2 separate regions of the Homo sapiens genome follow, and region 2 is reported to be linked to region 1. Evidence: microRNA targets listed by miRTarBase, many of them from high-throughput screens and not tested one by one. Region 1 holds a microRNA gene; the other region holds the end of a gene's coding sequence.
The links. Region 1 holds the annotated microRNA hsa-miR-6768-3p (CAAAGGCCACAUUCUCCUGUGCAC, at 1,196-1,219, opposite strand). A microRNA usually pairs through its seed, bases 2 to 8, with sites in the 3' UTR of a target mRNA and lowers its output. Matches are read on the target gene's strand: a 7mer-m8 pairs with bases 2 to 8, a 7mer-A1 pairs with bases 2 to 7 and ends in A, and an 8mer does both.

Region 2: miRTarBase lists EZHIP as a target of hsa-miR-6768-3p. Seed matches in the 3' UTR shown: 7mer-m8 at 2,591-2,597.

The regions. Positions count from the first base shown.
Region 1 is chr16:2,461,937-2,465,229 of GRCh38, reverse strand. MIR6768 (microRNA 6768) reads right to left here and starts at 1,263; the gene lies at 1,192-1,263. TEDC2 (tubulin epsilon and delta complex 2) reads right to left here. Exons shown (of 10, transcript NM_025108.3): 6 at 2,991-3,081; 7 at 2,704-2,815; 8 at 2,498-2,599; 9 at 1,001-1,191; 10 at 267-708. The coding sequence ends at 562. It overlaps TEDC2-AS1 (TEDC2 antisense RNA 1), which reads left to right. Exons shown (of 1, transcript NR_135198.1): 1 at 1-280.
Region 2 is chrX:51,408,015-51,411,307 of GRCh38, reverse strand. EZHIP (EZH inhibitory protein) reads right to left here. Exons shown (of 1, transcript NM_203407.3): 1 at 2,465-3,293. The coding sequence ends at 2,780. Among named protein-coding and RNA genes, the nearest start is that of EZHIP, 2.7 kb to the right of the region's middle.

The sequences.
Region 1 (3,293 bases):
GTGGGAGGATCACCTGAGGTCGAAAGTTTGAGACCAGCCTGGCCCACATGGTGAAACCCCATCTTTACTAAAAAAAAAAAAAAAAAAAAAAAAAAAAAAATAGCCAGGCGTGGTGGCCGAAGCCTGTAGTCCCAGCTACTCGGGAGGCTGAGGCAGGAGAATCGCCTGAACCCAGAAGCGGAGGTTGCAGTGAGCTGAGATCACGCCACTGCACTCTAGCCTAGGCGACAGAGTGAGACTGTCTCAAAAACATAAATAAACACAAATGCTTTCTAAAGTGGCTTTAATATCACACAAGCGGCTCTTTGGTCTACAGTGAGAGAAAACAGAGGGAGCCAGGAAAGGCTCCCCGCTGGCCTCTGGAGTCCAGGAGCCTTAGGAAGGCTGAAAGCCAGCCCTGACCAGCAGGCTTAGTTGTCCTGAGAAGAGCCAGTGAGGCCACCTGGTCCAGTTCACCAGGTTTCCCAGGGAAGCACAGGCATCTCTGGGTCCCCGAGCACAGTGCCAGGGAAGACACCCCCAATCCCCATCTGAACAGGCCGAGGGCAGCATGGGAAAGGCTCAGACTGCAGGTTCATCCCGCAGGATGGTAAGGACACGTGCTCCTCCCTCGCAGAGCAGGCTGTGCACAGCCCGGCACAGGGCCAGCCAGGGCGGCCCCTGCGGCTGTGCAGCGCTTACCAGGGGGAGGAGTTCAGCCATCAGGACCTGGGGGCAGGGCAGGGCAGGGCCAAGGTCTCAGGGGCACCTAGGCGGGGGGCAATCCTGGGACAGGCTTCGAGGCCCCCATGCTTCAGCCCTCCTCCCTCCTTCTGAGGCTCCAGGCTCCCTCCTGCCGTCCCAGCCCCGTCTGACCCATGCACTTCCCAACCCACACACACAGACCCCAGGCTTGCCCCCATCCTCCTGGGTCCTGGGGGGTGGAGCAGTCAAGCCCCTACCCTCGGGTCCTCAAGGCTGCGGACCTCTGTTGCACCCCCACCTCCTCTTCCAGAAGCACCTTTTCCAAGTGGATCTGCTGGTCCAGCACAGCCACTCGCAGCTTGAGGGCCGCCAGGGTCTGCAGCTCCTGGGTGCTGGAGTAGACAAGCAGCTGGGGGCTCCATGCAGGCTCCGCTCTACCCCCACAGGACGGCGAGGCTCCGGGGGGCCTCCCCACAGGACATGGTCTTGGTGGCTGTTCCGCCACCGCTGTGTGCACAGGAGAATGTGGCCTTTGGGGTAGCAGCCGAACCCAGGGCCCCGCTTTTCCTGTGTGCCTGGCCCTCCCGCATCTGCACCACCTGCCCTGCCTTTAGGAGAAAGGTGGGCTTTCAGGACAGCCCCATGCAAGATGGTGTGTCTTGGGCCTGGACTTGCTGGCAGGGAGTCCTCTGTGGGGTGGCCCTCTGCCTGCCTAATTTCTTTACTGTGTTTATGCATGACTTTTATGAGATTGTCTTTCCTTTTGACAAATGATGTATCTTCACTCTTAAAACTTCAAGCAATTAGAAAATACAAAGGAGGAAACAAGTTCTATAAATAACCACCTCACGCAATCCCAGGCGAGTCACCTCCCAGGAGCTGATTCTCACGAGCTACTTTCTCTTTTTTTTTTTTTTTGGAGACGGAGTCTCACTCTGTCACCCAGGCTGGAGTGCAGTGGTGCAATCTCAGCTCACTGCAATCTCTGCCTTCTGGATTCAAGCAATTCTTGTGCCTCAGCCTCCCAAGTAGCTGGGATTACAGGTGTGCGCCATCATACCCAGTTAATTTTTGTATTTTTAGTAGAGATGGGCTTTCGTCATGTCGGCCAGGCTGGTCTTGAACTCCTGACCTCAAATGATCCGCCTGCCTTGGCCTCCCAAAGTGCTGGGATTACAGGCGTGAGCCACTGTGCCCGGCCTCACACGCTACTTTTTCTTTTTCTGAGACGGCATCTCACTCTGTCGCCCAGGCTGGAATGCAGTGGCGCAATCTCAGCTCACTGCAAGCTCCTCCTCCTGGGTTCACGCCATTCTCCTGCCTCAGCCTCCCAAGTAGCTGGGACTACAGGCGCCCACCACCACGCCTGGCTACTTTTTTATATTTTTAGTAGAGACAGGGTTTCACCGTGTTAGCCAGGATGGTCTTGATCTCCTGACCTCATGATCCACCCGCCTTGGCCTCCCAAAGCGCTGGGATTACAGGCGTGAGCCACCGCGCCCGGCCCTCACATGCTAGTTTTTCAACAACTGGGTGAATAAGCAACTGCTCAGAGCAATGAGGTTCTGTGTGCGGGGAGCAGCGAGGTGGGAGAGCTGCCCTGAGGAGGAGAGGAAGGCTGACTGCTCCCATAGGACGACTGGTGAGGACCCAGCACACTGGGGAGTGGCGTGGGAGGGGTGGAGGGGCCCACCAACTTGCATCTGGTCCCTGGGCTGCTCACCCTTCCCTGAGGCGCAGACAAGCCTGGCTAAAGCACCCTGTCCCCGGCCCAGACCTCAGTGCAGGTGGCAGGGTGGGGGCGGGGTCTCACCTGCACGCAGCTCCTGCAGCCTGTGCAGACACTGGCCCACCATGGCCTGCAGCCCCTCCAGCGTGAGCAGGCAGCGGTACTCCTGCATCCAGTCCATGGGGGCTGCAGAAGAGTCAGGGAGAGCAGGTGGGGCCCGTGGCAGTCTGGAAACCCTCCCTGCACTGGCCCTCCACACTCCTCCTGATACAGACCCAGGACCCACTGACCTGCCGAGAGCTCCTCCCTCATGCGCAGTCTCAGCAGCGAGCAGGCCTTCCGCAGGCGCCCCGCCTCCGCCTCCACCTCCACAGCACTGAGCCTGGGCTGGGGCCCGCCTGACTGGATATGGGTCAGGAAAACTTCCCTGCAGCCAAAGCCCCTCTGCTCCCACCAAGAACGGGGCCTGGGGAGTGGCCCTGGCCATCCCACGCCAGCCCCTCCTGGGGCTGCTCTGCAAACCTGCCAGGTTCAGAGCTAGAGGCCCCCAGGGCTCCCACAAGCCCAGCAAGGATACAGCTGTCTGCATGTTCTGGAGGAACTGGGTTTTGGCAGCGGCGGCATCCGTGGAATCACTGGTCTGTGTGGAACTGAGCTGGGCCCACAGGCTGGGGTGCACACGTGGGGTGCACAGAGGAACCACAGAGGGACACGGTTATTCCAGCCAGTAAGCTGGGCCTTGGGAGGTAGGCAAGGGCCAGGGTGGGGACCCCAGGCTGGGCGTCTGGCTCTGCTGAATGCCAGGAGGGGCCTCCAGAGGCCGCAGGGAACCAAGAGGACACTGACTAGGACAAGGGGACAAAGCTGACCGGCTGGCAGA
Region 2 (3,293 bases), not on the chromosome of region 1:
AATTGTTCACCTTCCATATGAAGTTTAGGTTGATAGAGTAACTTTACACAATACAAAACCAACACCATTTCTCATAATAAATTGCAGATGAACATGCCCAAACCATTACCTTCACACTTGGCAAAACAGTAGTACTCTGTGCAGGGGCATATCATGCAATTTACTTCACAAAAGAAGTTAATAACCTCGCAAGGGGGCCATGACAGAGTCCACAGTTCAATGTGTCTTTCCTTCATATTTTATGTAACCTCTGTTCCTCAACGTCTTCATCTATAAAATGGGCTCAATATGAACATCTACTTCCTAAGGTTGTTCTGTGAATTAAACGAGTTAGTGTATGTATAAACGTTAAAACAGTACTTAACACATACAAGCATACTATGATTTTTACCTGTTATATCTGCATGCCAGGTATTATATAAAGGCAACTTGCAGTCAATAATGTTAATCCTTGATGTATTCCATTCATTCATTAAAATGAATATTTTAAACAAGTTAAGATACAAATAACGCTGGGAGAAAAACTACTGTTCTCAGAAGCATTCATGTAACGACTGCGAGTATAAATTTGTTAAATTCCTAGAGTTTGTACCTCTGAGGCTCAATCCTTTGTTTTTTTTTACATTTTTGCGCAGTGGCCTCTGGTATTGGTAAAAATGTTGCTCAATAGCTTGTGGAAATGCCTTCATATTTTAAAGTACTAAGTACAATAAAGAATGTCCCTCTCCATTTTTGAAACAGCCAGTTTGATTTTGAAAGTATTGTTGTTTAGGAAAGACCAGTAACCTGTTAAGGGGCTGTCAGAAATATCTGGACACATGATCATAATCCTAATCAGAGTAAGAACCATCTGTACTGGGCACTCACGATGTGCAAGACACTGTTGGAAGCACTTAATATGCACCATCCATTTTAATCCTTACAATAATCTTGGAGACGTACACTCTTACTGTGCCCAATTGACAAATGCAGAAGCTTTGGATCCCAGGTTAACTAACTTGCACTGGGTCACACAGTGATTCAATAGGAACACCAGAATTCAAACCCAGGAATTCTGACTCTGGAGCCAAGCTCTATTAGCTATGAGATTTTGAAAATCACAAAATTGCTCTGAGCCTCAATTTCCACATCTGTGAAATGGGAATAAATGTAGGCCCTCCAATACTGGGAGGTTGTGACTTGCTGCATTGGAACTGTCTACTTTTTGTCTTAGTCTTTGGATATCTAGAATTACTCAAGAAAAAGAAATATAACAAAGTGAGAGCTTTTAAAATATGTGTTCTTTCCTTAGGAAGGACCCTGAGAATACGGCCTTGCAAGCCCTAGAAACAGCCTTGAAGAATGAGGGTACCTGAAACACTTTCTATAAAAGTGGCAGGATGTTGGGACCTGGTGGGCACACAGGTCCCACTTATCCCCCATGGACTCTTAGCTTTGTGGTGTGAATAAAGCATGAGCAGGGCCTGAACAGGACCCTCCAAATTGTGACCAGGGCCCTTTTTGGTCAGGACTATGCTTGTACTGTTCACATACCAGAATAGCAAAGGAGAGGAGAAATATGAGAAAGGAGGGAAAGGGAGTTTCTTTTGCTGGTTTGCTTTATATTTTTTCACTCTGTTCTTTTAATGTAGTCTCTCCTATTATGTTTCTACAACTTAAATTTTCAAAAAACAGCGGAGTTTAATTTAAAAAAATAGTTATATGGTCAATGTGGAACTTGTAGATTATAGAAGACCATATCACCAGTTATTAAAAAAAAGATATACACCTTGTTCACAGCATGGTGTATGCCCATGTAGTTCTCTCCAAATGTCTACACACACACACACACCCTCACATATCTGCTCAAACTCAGTTACAATTATTTTTGTTACAGTAACATTATCGATTAACACGTATTTCCACTGAATGTCTGACCATTTTCCCATCAATTATTAGCCCCAAATCACCCTCCCACATTCTCCCCACCCCCAAAGACCTCAGGAGCCCGTTCCCCACACATAAACATTTTTTTATCCTTTAGAATCTAAGATATTCCCCTCTCAAGCTTCTGACTCCTGCTGTTCCCCATTTCCTGACTCTGGATCTTCCTCCCAGCTTCCCTACTCCCATCTGGGTTATCGTCTCCCTACCTCTCATCCCAAACTTCATCATTCCCTGCTCCTTTCCTGACCCTGGATGTCTCCATCACCCCTCCTTTTCTCCAGCCACCTGGGTTAGACCCTGGCCCCTTTTCTTGCCCAAGTTGCAAATCACCTCTGCTAAGAGGGTATATAGACCTAAGTGGGAACTTCCTGCACAGAACTCCATTTCAGCCAGTGGGAATAAATTATTGCTAGGACAGTATTTTATTTCTTCTCTCGTCCAAAGAGTCAGCTAGTATGTTAACAACTTTCTTTAACCCTCCAAATATGATATAGGATTAACGATTTTTCGAACCGCAATAAAAAAACACACCTCTACATTTTGTTTAAACAAAACAATTTATTTTACTAATTAAAACATTTCATAACAGAAAAGCAACTTGGAAAACAGAAATCTCAGCTCAAGGGCAAAGGCAAACTCTTGAGGAAGAAGGTGGCCCAGAATCAAAGGCCAACAGCAGGTTAAGTGCTAGGTGGTGGAGTCATGGGGAGGAGAGGCTTCTAAACTACTCAGGATGTTGGTTAACGGCTGGAACTTTGGGAGACCTCGCAGCTAACTACAGGGCAGGCAGCCCATTCACAAAGTGGGTAAATGTTGATTCCTTCTGTGGGTCTTAGAGGATGCTTATAGAGGGTCACGGCTCAGGCGGTGTTGCGGGGTGAGCTGTGCTCTCTATTTCTGCCTGCTCTTCTGGAGGGACAGGGCTCAGAGCATAAAACTCAGGCATCAAAGCATACCTAAGGCTTTCAGGGCTAGGAGTGGAGATAGATCTCAGGCCCAAAAACTCAGGGGAAGGGGATGAGGGGCTTAGGCCAGGAGACCTACTCGGGGAGGAGGAGTTGGAAGCATAGGAGGAGGAGGAGCTCTCATCCCACTGCTGAGGGATGGGAAGGAAGAACCTCCCAGGGGGTGAGGGTGAGGAGGCACGCATACGGACTGCATGCCAAACAGGCGGGGAAGCACGGCTTGGGACCTCAGGATCAGGAGAGCCTGATCTGCTCTGAAAGGCAAGCCTTTCTGAGCCAGTCCCACAGGAAGGATTCTCATCAGCTGACCCAGACAGAGAGCGGCGGCTGAGAAGGGCTGATCTTTGCTGGGTGGAACGGCTCCGGAGGCCAGTGCCTGGCGTCGTGCTGGTGCTGCGATGA